Linked DNA regions of Homo sapiens: all the other regions are linked to region 2. The links come from fine-mapping of genetic effects on gene expression. A gene starts in region 2. Each other region holds a variant in brackets. All regions are shown on one strand. Distances are between the middles of the regions.

Region 1 (5,156 bases), 80 kb after region 2:
ATAAGTATACATATTGAAAGACTTAATTGCTGAAATATGCTTTTCTTTGAAATTTCCAGGTGGTGGGGATTCTCGTAGGCTTGGGCATCATTGCCTTGGTTACTTCACCCTTGTTACTCCTGGCCTCCCCATGTATAATCTGTTGTGTCTGCAAGTCCTGTCGGGGCAAGAAGAAAAAGCACGACCCATCCACAACCTAAAGATCTCTGTGTTCATACGCCCCAGATATGTGAGTTACATGAGATGGCACAGTGATAAAGCCCCATTTAGTGACCTTGCCTCCTTCTCCTTGCCAACTTTGAAAGTGCCTCCGTGTCCAGACTTTGAACTTGCCTGCCAGCCTTCAGCATCAGGAAAGGCCAAGTCCTGGGTGTGAGTGTTCCTGTGTAACAAGAACTGGGCTCAACGGTCCAGCTGTTTCTATGGAGCTTTGGGGTTCCTTGAGATGAATGAACATATCATTTTATCATCCAAAGGATCTCACTGGACTGTTCAACTTCCAGCCAAATTCAAGGAGCTTGCGGGAACATTTGATATAACAAATGTGTTGTCATTGTTGGCAACATACAAGATAACCAAGAAGCTGGAGTCTGTTCTGTGTTGATTTGACTGCCATGAGAAACACAGGGGAAACCTGATGAGGAGAAGGATAAGACTGCGTAAGGAGAAATCCTCATAGGAGCTATAAAGCAGGCTGCTGATCTCAGCAGTTGATATGGTGGTTGTGCCTCTGCTGGCTACTGGGTGTGCTGTCCCCATGTTCCCGCTGTGATTTGGCAGAAACACAATAGGCTTCTCCTTGTGTGATCTCAGCTTCAAGCAGGTGAAACTGCTGTGCAGAGGGAGTTGCCCCTTCCCAGTAAAAGAGTTGCAGCCTGTTAAACAATGTGGTCTAATTTAGTGTCTCTCCCTTGGCAAATGTAAGTTTTCTAAGTTGGCCAACTTGTCTCTTACAGCCAGTGGCTGTGGTCTACAGAATTGTTTCATATAAAATACGGGTAGAGTGGTAGAGTTTCAAAACTTTCGTCATAGATATCTGGGACCTTTCTCAGGATCTGTGTTCACACAGCCAATAGATTTGGAATCAGGCCTAAGAGTACACATGGAGGGTAAATATTAAAGTGCGTATTATGTACATCTAGAATCCATGTGACTTGCAGCCTACCTGTAATTTCTATCCATTGAGCATGCATGGATATACCCAATAGTACACACAAAATAAATGTTTACTTAAGAGCCATTCTATCCTTTTGTGACTGAAATGGTTTATTGTAAATCTGCCTAAAGATTTTTTGCATATTATATATGTGAATTTTGGTTGTAAGTTCATAACTTACCCAAGGGTATAGACTCATAACTCTTTTAAAACAGTGCTTAGTACAATATCCTGCCATCTCTGTAAAAACGCTAATTGATAACCGAGTCATTTACATGTTTTCGAACACAGAATAGCTCTTTTCTCAGCATCATTATTGCTCTTTCAGCATCTGTTAGGACAGTCTGAATACTTTCTGTTTCAAGGCACTGATAAAACCGCAACAAAAACATGTAAGAAATAAAATAGAAATGCTTTATATAATTTAGTTTAAATTTATGTATCACCTCATTGTGACTTATTTTTTCCATTATACCATTAGTCAGATTTGAATAACGAGGTTTTGAAAGGATAAAACCTTTTCTCCAATGACAGGATTATATAATTGCTATTGGCAATGTAGCCTGGTGCTTCATGAGACCTATGCTAAATGTTACTGGAGAGTTCTTGAAGCCAGGGATACCATATCAGGAACTATTCAGGATCTATGATATTTTCTGAGGTAACTGGGTAATAGAATATCAAATTGCTGCTATCTCGGACCTATTGTTAAAGGATGATGCTTTGCCTATGTAATAGGATATATCCTAAGTGGGGATGTGTATATTTCAGGAACTTTAATTCACAAGTATATATTGATATCTGATGTGTGTATAGTACATCTGTTGGTTATGTACATTTTAATTTACATGTTGTGTAGAACATAGATGAGAACTCTGGGAAAACTTGGGAATGGCAACCAACCAAAATCATTTTTAATCATTTATTAGAAATTTCTCAATATTGTGTCTTTTTCTTTTGAAACTCTAAACACTTCAGAAAAAAA[C/A]ACTATCAGTGTAGTTCATGTTAGTATAATTATAGATTTACATATATTTGAATAGTTAATTTGCTTTGTTTTACACGTAGCCCACTGCCTCATTATAGGTAAAAGGCATTTATAACTGCTCAGGGGATTACGAGAACTCAACTGAAACTGAATTTTTGTAACAAGAATGTTAATAGTGGCAAAGTCCTCTGTCAGTAAACTCTTTAAGCTTGGTGCTGCAAAGAGTCTTTAAATGGGGGCTGATTTCAAGTAACCTAAAAGACTGTGTTATCAGAGGAAGAGGTCCCAAATTTGGAGTAAAGATGGGAGAAAATAAATATGTGCTATTTCCTTGGCGAGTTGAGGGAATTTGCCACCTTACAGAGTTTGTATCACTGAATTAGCTGCTTTTGTTTTTTTTTTTTTTTTTTTGCCAGGGCTATGGAGTGGGGGTTGTTTGTCAAACTGATTTTCAATAATTGGATTTAATTTTTTTTAACATTGAAAAGTGCCTGAAAAATGGTAAATTCTTAAATGTGTGTGAGATTGTCAGAATCAACAAAACTAGGTTGGTTAAACATATCTCTGGTACATCAAGGGGCATGATACAAACCAGTCTAAAGACTGTTTATAAAGGAGAGAGCTGGCGACTTATTTTTATTTTTATTTTTTGGACAGAGTCTCCCTTTGTCACCCAGGCCGGAGTGCAGTGGCATGATCATGGTTCACTTCAACCCCTACCTCCTGGGCTCAAGTGTTCCTCTCACCTTATCCTCCTGAGCAGCTGGGACTACAGGCACACACCACCACACCTGGCTAAGTTTTGTATTTTTTGTAGAGATGGGGTTTCTCTGTGTTGCCCAGTCTTGTCTCAAACTCCTGGGCTCAAGCGATCCACCCACCTTGGGCTCCCAAAGTGTTGGGATTACAGGTGTGTGTCACTGTGCCTGACAGCTGACAGTTTTAACTGACAACTTTGATAACAGAGGCTGCTATTTTTGTTTTAGATAATTGGCCAGTGACAGAGTTTACCCTTGCCTCCTTTCTTGGTCTGCCAGCTTTGTCCTTTCTGAGTGATTCTCTTTCTGTATTGAGAGGAAGTGTGGGTCTACATAGGGATGTTTGGATGCTATGGCAAGAATCTTTTTGTGTTTGGAGTGTAGTCCATTTGCAATAGAAATAAAAAAATCCGTCACCAAATTGTAACCTGGATGTTATAGCCCAGCATCTAGAAATCCTATGAAACGTATTAGCACAATATCTTGCCATTGTCCCATCTAGGAAATTTTTTCTTGTTGTGAGGTAGGGAAGTGAGGAGGAAAGCCATGCCGAAGCAAATGTTAGAATCTTAGGCATCCTATTTGTTCATGCCATGGGTATTTGCTTTGGACTTGGAGTCTGTACTTTGAAAGAGGCCTTTGAAAAACAAATAATTCTGTGTGAATTTTCTTGTAGCGTGCTTCATGAAAATATCTACTTATCCAGGTTTGCAAATGTACATGTTCATTTGAATGTAAATCACCATTTCTTGGAACCCCACGTTTTTTCTTAAAAATTATTCTGAATTAAATGTATATTTCTTTAGCCTTCCCTACACAGTACTAATAAAAGACTTTTCTTTCTGTTCATGAATGGATGCCTTTATGTGATATAGAGTCATGTGTGTATGTGTAGCTTTAAGGGCAATTTCAGAAATGCATTAGATGAATGACATTTTATAAAGCGATCACAATTGATATCTACAGGCTATTATGTCTCATGTTGATTCATGATCCAGGAAGTTTTATGTATTTAAAAAATTGCTATCGTGTTATATTTTTCCAATTTTTGGAGAAGAAAATAGCTGTTTAGGCTCTCTAGCCACAATAAATGTAAGCAGGAAATCAAGTGTGTTAACCTTTGTTGCGCTGCACAATTCTAGGCATGTTCAGTTTTATCCTTTGAGAACCAACCAAGTTACTGTTAAATCCTAGGTTCTGAATTTACAAAATGTACCAGAATTTGCAATACCATCTATGGAAATAACTCTTGGCTACTTTACTTCTTAAAAGAAATAGGGTCAGGGGGTCAGGTGTGGTAGCTCACGCCTATAATCCCAGCACTTTGGGAGGCCAAGGTGGGCGGATCACCTGAAGTCGGGAGTTCGAGACCAGCCTGGCCAACATGGTGAAACCCCGTCTCTACTAAAAACACAAAAAATTAGAACCCTGTCTCTACTAAAAATACAAAAAAAAAAAATTAGCTGGACATGATGGCACATGCCTGTAGTCCCAGCTACTTGGGACGCTGAGGCAGGAGAATTGCTTGAACCTGGAGGTGGAGGTTGCGGTGAGCCAAGATTGTGCCATTGCACTCCAGCCTGGGCAGCAAGAGCGAAACTCGGTCTCAAAAAAAAAAAAAAGGGGGTGGGGGGGTGGCAAGTGTAATGCCTTTGTTACACACTTTCTTCTTTGTAGGTGTGATAGTCCACACTGCCAGTGCATAGGAACTCATCATTATCCAGAGCAATAACCAATAATACAGATCTTTGATCATTCTAATAAAAAATGCTGCCAAGTGTCAAAGCCATTTGTTCTGTACAATAAAGGTTGGACTAAACGCTAAGGTCAGTTCTAACCTTCCAAAAGTCTGCTAGAGGCATGTGTTTCCTTGTTATGATTTTTTAAGAAAGGATTTAAGAGTGTTAAGGTCATTTCCATTTGAATTAGTATTCGAGGCAGGTCTTAAGTTGGGTGCCAAAGATTACTTAACAACTAGAGCTTGTGTTTCCATAAAACCGAAAGCTCACTCTCCTGTACTGGTGTTGAAACCTTTTTATTGAAGGCTGGATGCTTCTAAAATGGTACCTGCATACAAAGGTTTACAACTGATGTACAATTCAAATTTCATTTTCTAATCATTCAGTTTTGAGGAAATCAATAAGATCATTTAAAAATACTTTTGGGTTATGGTTTCTTAATTTTCTTAATCATCTCCTAGAATGTCAACATTATTTCATTTTGAAAGTGTGCTTATTGTTTGCTAACCTTGAATTTG
Region 2 (5,156 bases):
ACATGTGTGGCATTTCCCTGCCCCACCCCGCCTTGCTTCTGTTCCAGTCACGTAAGACATGCGTGCCTGCTTCCCCTTCACCTTCTACCATGATTGTAACCTCCCTGAGGGCTCCCCAGCCATGCTTCCTGTGCAGCTGCAGAACCATGAGCCAATTGAACTTCTTTTCTTTATAAATTACCCAGTTTCAGTTATTTCTTTATAGCAATGTGAGAACAGATTAATATAATCACCTTCTCAGAGAAGACTTGATTCTTTTCATCAACTCCTTTCCTTTAAATTCTTCTTCTCTGTGCTCCCAATAGCACATCATGCTTAAGTCTATCATATCACACATTATGTATCACTCACACATTGGGTACAACTATCAGTACCCTGATAATTGATTTGCTTGTCTTACTCCTTCCCTGGATTGAGAGGTCTTTGAGGACAGGGAGACCATGTCTAATATCATTATCTTAATACAACCTAGCAGATTGTCTGGGAGGAAATCAATAAATGCTCCAGAGAATGAATATCCATTCACACTGTAGACTCCTTAGGAAGATCTGAGAGAGTTTGTTCACATAATATTATAGCATTCAACGTGTTTATTTAGTCTTATTAAATTTTGACTGCAATTTAAAAAAAATTTGCATAGTTGCATGGTTGAAAATAATCAGTGGTGATGTTACTCAGTTGTGCAAAATATTTGGGATAATAGGCAGCACTATTCGTGCTTATGTTCTCATTCATATTGGCAGCAGCTTCTTCCCTTATCCTGTTAACAAGAGATTATAATTTATGAATGGTAATTTGAAAAGTGGACTCTGTGTTGAACTTTGGTTTAAGGCTCAGGAGATTTGCATCAACACCAATGAATAAACTAACCTCTTAGAGGTTGCTTTTTATCTTTCCTAGTTCCTGTCCACCAAAATGGTCACTATACCAAGAAAATTCCTTGAAATAGATTATCTCAGAACCTAAGCCATTGCTAAATCTGAAGGTTGGACTTCCTTTGGGATGGTTTTCATTTACATTCACCTTCCTCATGTAACTCAGATTTAGGTCTCATTCTAGCTTGGCCTGTGTCTGGTTTGGGCCAATCTCTTAAATCTTCCTGGACATCAGTTTCCTTATTTTTTTTTTTTTTTTGAGACAGAGTTTCGCTCTTGTTACCCAGGCTGGAGTGCAATGGCGCAATCTCGGCTCACTGCAGCCTCTGCCTCCCAGGTTCAAGCGATTCACCTGCCTCAGCCTCTCGAGTAGCTGAGATTATAGGCACCCACCACCACGCCCAGCTAATTTTTTGTATTTTTAGTAGAGACGGGGTTTCACCATGTTGGCCAGGCTGGTCTTGAACTCCTGACCCCAGATGATCTGCCCGCCTTGGCCTCTCAAAGTGTTGGGATTACAGATGTGAGCCACCGCACCCAGCCCAGTTTCCTTATTTTTAAAATCAGGTTATTTGCTAAAATAGCTAGGAAGACTTTTCAAGCTCAAATATCCTACCGTGGGTTCTTTTATCATCTTATTGCCCCTGTCCTTTTTCTCTTCCTCCCTGACTGGTGAGCTGGTCCTCCTACCTGCCCTAGCATGGCACATGTAGATACACTGTGTTATTCAGCACTTTGCTTTGACCTAGAGGTTTTCTTCAACTTGGAGGGCTGAGAAGCAATGTTTGCTTGTGTCGTTTGGAATGGTGCCTGTTGGCGTGCACAGATCCTTTCCACAAAGGGCCTGTGAGTCCCTTCCTTTTAGGAAGCACATTCCTGACAGTGGTTGCAAAAGTAGAGAGGGATTGCAGAGTGAACACAGATTCTTGTGTCAGAGCGACATTCCTAAATGGCAATGTTCAGCAGACTTAGGTGATTGTGATCTATGGGGGATATGGGGAATGAGTAGGTATGCGATTCATTATGAATGTCACACAAATGAAGTGTCCAAGGGTTTGGAGCAAGGAAGCACTTCATAATACCTCACAGCTTCTGGATTATTTTGTTACATTTTTGTTTAATTGAGGGTACAACCAGTTAAGTTACAAAGCACTTCAAGTGAAATCATTGTTTCATCAAGAAGTGTCTGTATTTTATGAGGTAAACTAAGATTATTCCCGATTTGATTCACAGGTATTCTAATTTCATCATTAGATGCAAAAGGACAAGTGAGGTACAAGCTGTTTTTTGATGAGATGTGCATGGGAAGTGTTTCTATAAAACAGTTGTCTGCCACGTGGGAAGGCAGGTCTGGGCTGTTAGAAGTAGAAGAAAGAGATTTAAAGAGCTGGGAAGGAGGGAGAAAATAAAGAAAGGTGGCCTGTGAGGATATGTACAGACAGAGAGGTAGCAGGCGCTTAAGGCCAAGAGGTGAGCTGTCCCTGTCTGGGCAGAAGAAGTGCGCTAGGGGCAGCTGCCTGCACCCCCTGCTCTGAATTCCTGCAACAGCGGTCCCAGGAGAACAAGAGACAGGTCCTGACAAGCAGTAGAGTCGGTGCAGCGCGCCCGGGTTCGGATAGGGTTAAGGCCAACACCTGCAGCTGAAGTACGACCCACATGGGAAGTAGGAAGTGCGGCGCCTGAGCTTCCTGTATAAATAAACGCGCTGCTACCGCTGCTGGCGAGCTGTGCCCCACGCTCCCGCTGCAACAGTCCCGGGCATCGCAGCTGCCAGTCAAGGCTAGGAGGCGGTCGGGGACTCCGCCTCCTCCCGACCCGTAGGTCTGGGAGCGCAAGTCCTGTTGCAGTCTTGCAAAGTGTAAAGCTGTCAGCCGCAGAGCACGGAGGAAAGACGGAGAGAATGGAAGAGCTCCTGTCCGGTGTGCCAGCAGCCCGGACTGGCGGTGAGCGCGAGGGAGGCTACTGAGAAGCCCGGCGACGGAGGAACGCAGGTCTGCTGCCAGGTAGGTTTAGCGAGCTTTTTAAAGGCTACAGGCGTTGCAAGACCGGAATGGTGTTGCTGGACTAAGGAAAAAGGACAGGAAACTCACTGTGACACCACAATTTTTCGATTTTCTGTCTCTAGTGCTCAAACCATACAGAACTGAATTCATTCTGAATGCCTTAAACACCTGTTAACTTAGAAGAAAAATGCCTTTGTTAAAGGAAAGTAGTTTCATTTCTAATAAAACAGTTTCTATAATAGAATGTATTGTAGAATCCGAGATTAGACCAGACCTCTCCCTAGGTCTTAAGGGGAGACCAAAAGTTGGCATAATCTCGGATTATGCATTATAGTGCTTATTTTATCAGGTAATTGCTAATGAAACAGTGAAACTCTGATACTACGAGAGCCATTCTCAAATTTAAGTTAAAATCGAACTGATTGTCGTTTGTGCAGGGAAAAGGTAGGTATCTTTTGCTTATTCTTTCTAAAACACCTTTTGTTTTTCTCATGAGTTTCAAGGATCCTGCTGTAAGTCTACTCCTCATGCATATACACTATTCACATAAAGATTTCCCAGAAATTAATTCCCTTCTCTGGGAAATGTTCTTTTTTCATGTTCTCATAACAGACTGTCAGTTTCATATTGCTTTCTGCCACATGTATCTTATCAAAACATTAGCTCTGAGGTTCTTAACAGGACTATCTCTGCTCTTCCGATTTGGCATTTCTGGACGTTTATTTGAACATTGAGAGGTATAAATTAAATGGCAATGTATCTAACATTTCTGAGGAAGCAGATTAGGGGGTGTCTGTGCCCAGAAGCAAAATAAATGAACTTTGGGATGACTCAGTTTTTAGGGTGTGGGTAAGAGGCAAAAGGAACCTAGCCAGTCCTAACTGAGTTGCTGGCTAATTAGAGTATCTGTCTGCCGCAGCTTTCACTGAAATGAGCCTCTTGGTCCCTTTCACATCAAATCCCTCTGTGAGTCCCTCCTTCTCCTTAGTTTATCTTTCCTTCACAACCTGGGTCCTTTTCATGGACAGCAGTGCCTTAAATACTTCTAAAACTATCCTGAGGGGGAGAAAAACCTATAGCAGATCCACAAAGCCACTTGTAGATAATTGTATTATGAAATCCAAGGTCATGGTTTCACACAACTCCTGCTCTGCCCTTGCACACCTTTGACTGGCATTTTTTTTTTTATTTTTGTCGTGGGCATAAACTTAGAAAAGTGGGAAAGGGAAAAACCTCAGTTTCAAAAGTAGTCTCTGACTAATTAATTATCTTGATTAAAAAAAGGTAAACATATATAGTGAACGTGAAAAAGATGTTGAGTAGTAGAATTGGGTTGCTTGGCTTTTTATTTAAAACAAACAAAACTCAACCAAAAAAACCCCCCAAAACCCCAAACAATCACCCTAGATAACTTTCTCCTACACTACTGTGCTGGAAGTCGGGCTTGAGTGTGGTCAAATCCTGCCCATTTACCCAGAGTTTTACAAATATTTACAGTCATCTATGCCAAATATCTTTGTGCTGAGTCCCAAAGAACATTCTCAGCATTCAAAAGGCCCATTCTCATGAATGGTTTCAGTTCATTGGCAATTTAAAGGCATTCAGGCTTCCAAACTAGGTCAGCTTAAGACATGTCTTTTTAAAATAATCAGTTTTTGGGTCTCAGATTATGAACCAGGTTTTTGGAGCCAAACTCTACAGCAGAGAGAAGAGTATGCTCTCTCTGGAAAGAAAAAGCTTATTTTATCTACCTGGTATGACCATTTAACTTCCTGAAAAACGTCTTTCTCCTCAGTAGTATGAATATTTTTCATCTGAGGAGGTGCACTTAAAATTTCCTTCTTGAAAAGTCATTTCAATATTTTAGACGTTTAGAAACATTTATATGTATGTCAGAATCCTTTCTCCGAAGTGTTTCTGCTAATCCTGGCTTCTTTGTTTCCCCTGGCCTTGACTTTATGACATTACTTTCTTGGAGAGTGAAGTTTTTAGTGTTTGAAATCTCCAGTTTGAGATAGAGGTCAGGAATCATGCTGAACCCAGATGTTACTGAAGGAACAAAGTCTGAGCAGTTTTGGGACTAAGCCTACTTTGTACAACTGATTATTTTGGATGTGGGAAAAGGGCCAAGCTGCCAGACAAGTCATGCTTTTCACTTGGACTTTGGGGAATAGGTATCTGTAGCCATTGCTCCTAAGTACTGAAACATTTCTTTCAGGGGTGCCTACCTTAATTTATAGAAGCTCCTTACCTGAAACAAATGGTCAATATTTTCAGC
Region 3 (5,156 bases), 88 kb after region 2:
CCTATTCCAGGCTCTCTGGGTGTTGTCAGAATTCAGTTCCTTCTCACACCTTCCACGTGGCCCCCTCCATCTTCAAGCTTGCAACAGCTCATTGAGTCTTTCTCATACTTCAGACCTCTTTGGCTTCCTCTTCTGACACATCTCTGGCTTCCATTTTACATTTTAATGGCTACGAGAGTATGTATATTTGTCATTTTCAAAAGGAAATTTAGCTTTTTAAAATCTGTTCTGTTTCCCAGCCCCATGAAGGCAAAGAGTTTTCACAGGTAATAGAATCTGCTTGAAGACATCACAAACTTGGGGAAGAGTTAGCAAAATCTAACTTCTACCTGGGAACTGTTGACTTACCGTTGGAATTGGGTCTAGTATAGCCAAGGAGATCAGCAATTCTGCTTCTGGCTAGTGTCCTTGGGAGGTCCATTTGGTCTATATGTGGGACAGATTTTCTTAAATGGACTCAGAAGAAAACCTGATCTGAGCTTTCTAAACAAACCTTCAGAAGATTCAGGATTGGATTGAATCTTGTTTTGGATTCAGGAAGGACAACTCTTTTAAGAGCTGGCTTAAAGTACAGGATGGTGTTTCCATTCAAGTCAGACCAGTAAAGCAGATGGATCTGAGTTAACCAGTCACTGCCTGTTGTTGAGGGACGTGCAACAAAAGTCAAGGTCATTGCCTCTTCCCCTCTCCCACCCCCAGTGCAGCAATACAGACCCGGCCAGATGCTGTAGATGTTTTAAACTAGCATAGCCATGCTTTTGACTAGAAATGAAAGACTGGAGGGAAGTTTGATAGCTCTCCTAGTCTCTTGTGGACAAGTTACAATTTCTCTTGGCTTCGGTTGCCTCATCTAGAAAATTAGGAAGTAACTGTTTTCTAGGTTCAGTACAAACCTAACATTTTGACTAAGATGGAAAAAACCTCCAGCCCCCTCTGTGAGCTCTATATGCATGAAACTAGTTAGCTCAAGGGAAATTCTCCTTCTTAGACAAAGTAATCCTCAGAAGCAGCTTCCAGATGCTGTTATGGATAATGCCAGAAGCATATGAAATATATTGCCAATTTACTTAAAATGAGCAAATTCAAAGAGTAGTGGTTGAACCTCATGGTTTATCTACAGCTCTTGGTGGCTAAAAAGACCTATAATCAAAGTTGCTTGGGGAATTTCCAGGGACATGTTTCTTCTAGTACCTATACAAAAAATATCAGGACCTCACTCTCCTTATTTGAAGCACACCATGGATTATTATGAGTGTGTTAGTCTAAGGGGCTTGTTATTAATTTTTTTCAGTATACATTGTATTTTCTGCAAATTGAGTTAAATTTAAGGTATATATATTGATAGCATATAGGATAGTATATATGCATGTATGTTTGTGTGAATGAGAAGATAAATAGGCACATCGACTTTGTTAACAAAATTTTTATTCAGTCTTTAATGAATTCGATTTTCAAAAGTAGAACACAAAACTACTTGTGAACTTTGAAAAACGGTAAATAAAGAAATAAGTTAATTAAAAAAACAAGTTAATTAAATATTCAAAGAATGCTTTAAAAGTTTTAAGAGTGGTCATACTAAAACTCAGTCCTCATATTTACATCTGATATCACAAGTGTGTCATAGCCAAGGAAGTAAAATAAGAACTTGTGGTGGGGCATGGTGGCTCACGCCTGTAATCCCAGCACTTTGGGAGGCCGAGGTGGGCGGATCACTAGGTCAGGAGATCGAGACCATCCTAGCTAACACGGTGAAACCCCATCGCTACTAAAAATACAAAAAAGTTAGCAGAGCGTGGTGGTGGGCGCCTGTAGTCCCAGCTACCTGGGAGGCTGAGGTGGGAGAATGGCATGAACCCGGGAGGCGGAGCTTGCAGTGAGCCGAGATCGCACCACCGCACTCCAGCCTGGGTGTCAGAGCGGGACTTCGTCTCAGAAAAAAAAAAAAAAAAAAAAAAAAAAAACTTGAAAAAAATCTTCAGGTTTAATTTCTTTTACCTACCTTAAGGAAAACAAAAATGTGTGTTGATTGCACCTTAAAATGAAAATGATAAAAATAAGTGGTTGTATTCTTCTCCCACTCCCCATTCATAATCTGCAGGGTATTTCTCAAACAATAAATATCCTCAACTGGTGTAAGAATGTTAATTTACTACTGGAGGGAACAGAAGATGACCTGGAAGCATTGTCCCAAGCTAACTGCTGAGGGCTAGACACTTATTTGAGGTCTCTGGTTTTATTTTTTAATTTTATTGTTCATTTAAACATTCATTAAAAATTATAACCTCCATA[C/T]TATTTTGATTTTAATTAAGTAATTTTGTTTGTAGAGACAGGGTCTTGCTTTGTTGCCCAGGCTGGAGTACAGGGGCACGATCAGGACTCACTGTAGCCTCAAACTCCTGGGCTCAAGCAGCTTCCCACCTCGGCCTCCCAAAGTGCTGGGATTACAGGTGTGAACCACCACAACTGGCCTGATTTTATTTATTTTTATTTTTGAGACAAGGTCTTGCTCTGTCGGCCAGTCTGGAGTGCAGTGGCGTGATGATCTCGGCTCACTGCAGCCTTGACCTCCTGGGTTCAAGTGATCCTCCCACCTCAGCCTCTTGAGTAGCTGGGACTACGGTGCATGCCACCACACCCCGCTAATTTTTTAATTTTTTTGTAAAGACAGAGTTTCACCATGTTGCCCAGATTGGTCTTAAACTCCCGAGCTCAGGCAATCCTCCTGCCTCAGCCTCCCAAAATCCTGGAATTACAGGTGTGAGCCACCAGACCTGGCCTGATTTCATTTTAAAGATTACATTTTAAATTATTGAAGTAAGATTAACTTCTTCTTTTTTCTTTTTTTTTTTTTTTGAAGACAGAGTCTTGCTCTGTCACCCAGGCTGGAGTGCAGTGGCACGATCTCGGCTCACTGCAACCTCCACCTCCTGAGTTCAAGTGATTCTCCTGTCTTAGCCACCCGAGTAGCTGGGACTACAGGCGCACACCACCACACCTGGCTAATTTTTGTATTTTTTAGTGGAGATAGGATTTCACCATATTGGTCAGGCTGGTCTCGAGCTCCTGACCTTAGGTAATCCACCCGCCTCGGCCCCCCAAAGTGCTGGGATTACAGGTGTGAACCACTGTCCCTGGCCAAAATTAACTTCTTAAAGATGCTTTATCTTTGTCTTGTATCCTCCAGTACCCCACAATACCCTGGGGTGTTACATACACCTGTTTGAGAAGCATGAGCAAGTCTACTAGGTTATTTTAATCACCAAACATATATTGAATGCCTTCTTTGTACAAACAAATGTGTCTCAATTAGTTGTTTCAAGTGGCTTAGTTAGGTTTAGGAGAAAGAATACGTTGGTCTACAGAAAAAGGAATGACTGCATTGGGTCATGCCTGGTACATGCCAGGTGATTGGTGTAGACAGGTGCCATGAACCTGTGGAGAAGGAGTGAGATTGTTGGAACTTTTCAATTCACATTTCATGGAGATGATGCTGATCAGGGTGTTGAGAGACAGGATTGTGATCAGCAAGGGCATTACAGAGAGGAGGCATGATGACAACAGTGTGACATGGGGAGTGAGAAATAACTGAATGAAACAGAAATAAAGCACCTGTGGGGTGCAGAAACAGAGAACCTTGAGTGCCAGGCTCCCGTGTTGACAGGTTCTTTTTGGGGTGAGGAGCCATTTCAGGGTTCTGTGCTTGAAGAGTGGGGTGAGGTGCAGTGACTCATGCCCATAAACCCAGCACTTTGGGGGGCTGACATGGGAGGATCACTTGAGCCCAGGAGTTCGAGACCAGCCTGGGCCACATGGCAAAACCTTGTCTCTACCAAAAGTTACAAAAATTAGCCAGGTGTGGTGGCATGCACCTGTGGTCCCAGCTACCTGGAAGGTTAAGGTGGGATGACCACCTGAGCCTTGGGAGGTCAAGGCTGCAGTGAGCCGTGATGGTGCCACTGCACTCCAGCCTGGGCAACAGAGTGAGACCCTGTCTCAAAAAAAAAAAAAAAAAAAAGGTATGTGCAAAGCTACATTTTAGCAGGTTAATCTGACAACAGTCTGTTGGTTAAATTGCAAGGAGAGAAGCTGGAAGTGGCGTGGCCAGTTTGAGGACAGTACTACAATAGTCCAGGTATCATTTAATGAGAGCCTGATCCAGGTTGGTGTCTGCAGGGAATGTCAGGGGAAAGCAAATGAGAAAGATCTTACATAAAACAAAACCAAACCCAATAACACTTTGGTAACTATAGCATCCACCAAACTAGTGCTTTAAAAAAGTTTTCCATTGTAATGTTGTTTTGTACTCGAACATGTTACTGTATTGAATATTAAAACCTCCATAAAATTGCTATCAGTCTTTACTCAGAGCCAGCTTAGAAAGGGTTTCATTAATGTGAGGCTTATTCATAGGACTCACCCTTAAATCATTTTTGGAACAAAGCAGGGAATAAATACAATTACTCATAGGGTATGCTGAAGGAGCAGCCAGATTGGATGCATAAAAACTGAGTGGGAGATGCATTTCTACTTTGTTTTATAACTTTAGTTAATTCTTATGAAAGTAGGGGGTACAGGAGAGTTTCTTAGAGTGATGAATTAATTCATTTAAGAAATGCTTTCAACCCAAATGCCTTCTCCTTTTTGGGGGAAAGCCAGGAGCACTGAAGTACATAACTAGCTTGACAAAGACGGGAAATGGAGTTGAGTTCTGAAAGTGCTTTGAGGAAGTTAATTGACCATGTTGTTTTCATTTACTTGGAAAGAAATTCTCTTTGAAAGTGCATGAGGTGTGTCTTCCCCTCTGCTGCCACTCTGTCTGCTCATAAGATAAACTGATGCAATCTGATGTTATATACTTCCATTTTGTATGTGAAGAACTAAAGCTTGTCACAAAACAACTTAATTATTCTGCTATAATTGATGATTAGCTTGTCCTTATTAGAATATTCTTTTGCCCTATGCCCATGGAAACTTTTTGCTCTCTGTAAGTCTGATAGAGTAGCTGTTAGAGCTCTGCTTAATGTGATTGAACCCAGAGACCTGGGAAGAGAGAGGAGGAACACTGTATTCTGGTCAAATTGGCCTTCTGTTAATCAATATCCATTACTTTAGGAGGGGAAAGAAAGGAGAAGCTGCCTGTCATATGAGAGACAAGC
Region 4 (5,156 bases), 25 kb after region 2:
GTTTCTGATGAGAGAACTTTTCCATTGTTGCCACTAAGTCACCAAAGTTTATGTATTTCTTCTTTTGAAGTTGCACCCTTATTCCAATATTCTCTAAGTCTATTCCCACCTTTGTCCAGACTCTACTGATCCATTTGGTACTAGTGTGTGCCAGGCATGGTGTTAATTGTGGAGCAAGTGGCAGTCATCAGACACAACCAGCCCTGCTGTTATGTGGGCAGTAGACCCTCTGATAAAGGAAGTACAATATGTTATAAAGCATACAGAAACCCACCTAAAATAGACTCAGGGAGGTAGGAGGTTTCCTAAGGGCTGAGACTGAAAGATAATAGGGATTGCTTGATGGCATTGTTGATGGGGCTGTGGGTGAGAACAGTGCTCCAGGGAAAAGAGGCCAGCCACATGTGAGAACACAGAATCAGGGAAGAGTGACCTGCTGAGGAACCAAACCGGAAGATGTTCCTGGGACACATTGTTGGAAGTGTGGGTGTGCTCAGGCAGGAGGCCAGAGAGGCAAGCAGAGACTAGATGGAGGGCCTGGTATGCTGTGTTAAAAAAACATTATGGAGCCACTGGAAGGCTTTGTTTGGGAATGAGATAGGGAGGATGGCGTCGGTACAGGATAGAGAATGGACTGAAAGTGGGCAAGGCTGGAGCAGGAGGAGGGAACCATGGCAGGCTGAAGCAGAGCTCGGAGAACAATGTCCTTATCAACTTAGGATACATGTGTATGGCAGACTGCAGTTTTGATGCCTGGAGTATTTAAATTATTTTTGTGCCCCAATTTCTCTTTTTTCCTATCCATTTGGGATACTGTCAGCTTTCTTTTCTTTTTTTTTCTTCTTTTCTTTTCTTTTTTTTTGAGACGGAGTCTCATTCTGTTGCCAGGCTGGAGTGCAGTGGCGTGATCTCTGCTCACTGCAACCTCCGCCTCCCGGGTTCAAGCAGTTCTCCTACCTCAGCCTCCTGAGTAGCTGGGACTACAGGCACGTGCCACCACTCCCAGGGAATTTTTGTATTTTTAGTAGAGACGGGATTTCACCATGTTAGCCAGGATGGTCTCGATCTCCTGATCTTATGATCTGCCTGCCTCGGCCTCCCAAAGTGCTGGGATTACAGGAATAAGCCACCGTGCCCAGTGAAAGTACATTTTTAAAAATCATGGCTAGTACTCATAGAAGAAATAGGACCCTAAAGTACAAAATAATCATGTTTCAGGGCTCTCTTGGTTTATTACATTGAAGATAATTTTTAATTATAAATGTAACACATGCTAATTTAAAAATAAACCAAAAAACCTCAAAAAGCATGTGCATGATTCATATATATATATATATATATATATATATATATATATTTTTTTTTTTTTTTTTTTTTTTTGAGACGGAGTTGTGCCCTGTCGCTCAGGGTGGAGTACAGTGGTGTGATCTCGGCTCATTGCAATCTCTGCCTCCTGGGTTCAAGTGATTCTTCTGCCTCAGCCTCCCAAGTAGCTGGGATTACAAACATGCGCCACCGCACCCAACTAATTTTTGTATTTTTAGTACAGAGGGGGTTGGCCAGGCTGGTCTCGAGCTCCTGACCTCAGGTGATCTGTCCACCTCAGCCTCCCAAAGTGCTGGGATTACAGGCGTGAGCCACCACGCCCAGCCCACCTGTACTTTCTTCTAGACTCTTTCCCTGTGTACTTACGCACATCACTTAATAGAGAAATGGGATCTTTAACTACAGATACTTTTAACTTGAGTTTTACAAACATAGTACATTGTGGACAAGTTTCTGTGCAAAAATATACAGACCAACCTTCCTTTTTAAGTATTGTATAGTGTTCTATGATATGGTTGTATGAAAATTTATTTAACTGGGCCCCTCCTAAATAATGGATTTTAAGGTTGTTTCTAGTTTTTGCTATTATGAATACATTTTTTTTACTTATATAAATGTGAAAATACCTGTCCTTAGGATAACTTTTTAGAAATAGAATTGCCTAACCAAAATAGATGTACATTTTAAATCAGTATGTGTTACCAAATTACTGTTCCAAACTGTTGCACCAGCTTGGCAACTCCACCAACAGAGTAGGAACAGAGGCCTCTCTTTTGACACTCCGGGTATTTTCCAACTTTTCACCTTCTGTAATCTGGTATGTGAAAAGAACATATCTCATGGTTTAATCCATACTTCCTCTTTTTAGGAGGAAGCAAATTGTTGTAAGAGAAGCTCATCTCATGAATCTATCTTTAAAAAACATACAGTATGCTCAGTGCCAGTATAGTTTCAACTGATTTTATACCTTGGTATTAATAGTAATCAAGTTAGAAAAAAATGGGCCATATCTAGAAAAGTATATTACACATAGAAGACATGAATGAATGAAAAAATGGTGGTGTTCAGACTGAGGGAGATGCCTTATCACACAAAAAAATTCATGTCCAGTGACAAAATGTTACTAAGTAGGTAAAGGAGGTTTAAAAAATTTAGGCAAGTTGAAAAAGGGTGGTGAGTTAACTAGAAAATTCAGTTTTTTAAAATCCCATTTTCTGTATATTTCAGTTCATTAAAGATTGGTTATATAAGGCTTATCTATGTGGATTCCAGATATGCAGTGTACCCCTTGGAATCAGGTGAGACACAGTGCCTCATTTCCATGGAA[A/T]TACATGGCTCTGTGTTAACTGAAAGCCTCCATGGTTTTGAATCATTTCCCACCCACAGTAAGGAGGTCTTTTTGGTTTGACTCTTCTGGAAAATATGTGTGAGGTATTTACTACATGAATGTAGGGTATTTTTTCAATCTGCTTAAACCTCATTTTATTCATCTGTTTAAAAAAATTACGGAAGGAAAAGCAAGGGCATTTGAGTACCTTTCATATAATATGTAATATGCAAGGGTACTATTTTTTCCCCCATTTACTCTTCCAGTTTACAGATAAACCAATTCAGAGTTAAATAACTTGCCCAGGATCTGTAATGTTAATCCCTACATCATAGTGTCGTTTGGAAGAAATAAAAACAAGCTCTGTGAAAATATATAATGTATGGCCTAGCACATAGTATGTGGTTCCTAAATTTTTTTTGTTAGCATGAAAATGGATGAAGGCCCATATTTGGCTTTTGTGATCTTAACCTGAAATGTCTAAAGCTTGACAATAGCCTATAAAATGCAAAATTGACAACTGGCTACTGATTTTATATACGTAAAAGTTTAGTCAGTACAAAACAAATGTAAAGAACTACTGGTTTAAAAAATCCAAGGAGTTTTTCAGAGAACAGAAAGTATGTAATCAGAATATAGTGGTGGCCATGGCCTCATATTAGAGATTGAGCATGAACATGAGTGTTCTGTGAACTTTCCACTGTGTGATTTCGGGTAAGTTATTTGAGGAAACCAAGGCCGAGACATTCAGAGGTCTGATTTACACAACTGGAAGTTCCCAGTGCATTTAGCATATTTTCAGATGTTGAAACTGAAGTCAAGGTTCAAGGCCAGGCATTCTGCCTCAATGACTGATGTTCTCCCACCCTCCAGGCGCATTGTGTCTGTGGAAGTTACTGGTGTTCTTAAGAGGACCTCAGTCTGACGGTTGTTTCCAAGTGATTCTTCTGTGTTGAGGGTGTTTAATGCATGGGTTACTGCAGAGCACAGAGACCTTTTCTGCAAATGGAAAAAAATATTATAGCTTAACATCTGCTTTCCCTAGGTAATGTGTTAATTAAAGATTGTTTTAATATGGAATGATGTCTAGCCTTTGAAAAACTTTATCTTACGGTTTATGGTATTGATAACCTTCAGAAAAGGAAGACTGGTTCAAATTATGTCAATTAATATGAAAAAAGCCCACTCAATATGAAGCCCCTTGACTTCTAAAAACTTGCTTTTTAGAAAATGTTAAAAAAAATTCCAGGTTTTGCAGGATAAATCCTCGGGGGAATATTGTGAGGTGAGGAATAGTCGTGGTCTTGATGCAATGTAACTTATAATTAGAAAGATGCTGATTTTGCTGTGGAGTCATTGAATATCATTATTTCAAAATAATTTTGAATAAAATGAGATTTCTAATAACCAACCTAGTCATTGTCCAACCTTTTCTACTTTTTCAGAGTTCAGTTCTCTTAAATCTAAGAGATTCTCTTTTGTAATGTAGCTCAAGAGGAAGTTTAAGGGTTAGGTCTATTCTTAACTGATGTCCCTTGTTCCTATCATTCCATGTATAGAAATAATATCTTCTTGAGGAAACTGTTAAGCGTCACTCTTTCCCAACTTTTGGGTCATTAATATGAGCTATTTTGCATGCTGGCTTTGTAGGTTATATCCTGTAGGAAAAAATGTTGGTGATGAGTTAGCTTTATTCTGTCACTTATACAGTGTTAATATTCTTTTAAAATTTCAAAAATTCAGATAGTTATTAATATTGCTACCACTAGTTTTATTTAAAAATGTTTTAATTTGTATAGATACGTAGTAGGTATATATATGATTAGTTTTAATTAAGATATTATTTCATTATAATTTATTCAAACTGGTTTAAATACTGAGACAGATTTTATTTAAAATATAGGATTTCTGCTTTTAAGCAGTATTAAAATCTGAGATTTGATGAATGGTATAAATTTTATCTTTTGCTTTTAGTTTTAAAATATTGTACAACATCCTGTTTCTATTCTTGAAGGTGAAAAAGAACAAAAACTTTTAAAAAGATGGAAAAAATTGTACAACAGTTTGTTATGAAACAAGATAAAGATTTTTACAACAAATACCTGTAGAGTTATCCCTTGGTATCTTCAGGATATTGGTTCCAAGCCCCTTCCCACTCCCCACCCCAAAGATACCCAAATTCATGAATGCTCAAGTCCCTTATATAGAATGGTGTAGTATTTGCATGTAACCTATGTACATCCTCCCATATACTTTAAATCATCTTTAGGTAACTTATAATATCTAATACAATGTAAATCTATATAAATGGGTTTTCTACTGTATTTTTTGTGTATTTCTTATTGTGATTTTAAAAATATATTTTCTGTCCGTGGTTGGTTGAATCCATGGATGTGAAATCTGAGGACGGGGGGCTGACCGTATACCAACTATCTCTTAGATTGTGCCTAAGTCCTTTTGTGTTGATATAACAAAATACGCGAGACTAGGTAATTTATCAACA

Direction of the effects. Positions count from the first base shown, and alleles are read on the strand shown. Sizes are in standard deviations (SD) of each study's normalised expression. Not every link is listed here.
For the expression in fibroblasts of the gene that starts at base 2,598 in region 2, allele T in region 4 goes with a higher level than allele A (moderate effect, 0.45 SD a copy in GENCORD).

The links.
Region 1: its variant is fine-mapped to the expression of RNF144B in whole blood (INTERVAL, PIP above 0.99). The same link has a PIP of 0.9 or more in monocytes after LPS.
Region 3: its variant is fine-mapped to the expression of RNF144B in whole blood (INTERVAL, PIP 0.98).
Region 4: its variant is fine-mapped to the expression of RNF144B in fibroblasts (GENCORD, PIP 0.95). The same link has a PIP of 0.9 or more in neutrophils.

The regions. Positions count from the first base shown.
Region 1 is chr6:18,464,868-18,470,023 of GRCh38, forward strand. It overlaps RNF144B (ring finger protein 144B), which reads left to right. Exons shown (of 8, transcript NM_182757.4): 8 at 60-4,003. The coding sequence ends at 200. Among named protein-coding and RNA genes, the nearest start is that of MIR548A1HG, 55 kb to the right of the region's middle. The variant C/A (reference allele first, on the strand shown) is at 2,142.
Region 2 is chr6:18,384,753-18,389,908 of GRCh38, forward strand. It overlaps RNF144B (ring finger protein 144B), which reads left to right and starts at 2,598. Exons shown (of 8, transcript NM_182757.4): 1 at 2,598-2,878.
Region 3 is chr6:18,473,064-18,478,219 of GRCh38, forward strand. No RefSeq gene overlaps it. Among named protein-coding and RNA genes, the nearest start is that of MIR548A1HG, 47 kb to the right of the region's middle. The variant C/T (reference allele first, on the strand shown) is at 2,290.
Region 4 is chr6:18,410,142-18,415,297 of GRCh38, forward strand. The region is part of intron 2 of RNF144B (ring finger protein 144B); the gene reads left to right. Among named protein-coding and RNA genes, the nearest start is that of RNF144B, 25 kb to the left of the region's middle. RefSeq lists an enhancer at 4,491-5,156. The variant A/T (reference allele first, on the strand shown) is at 2,654.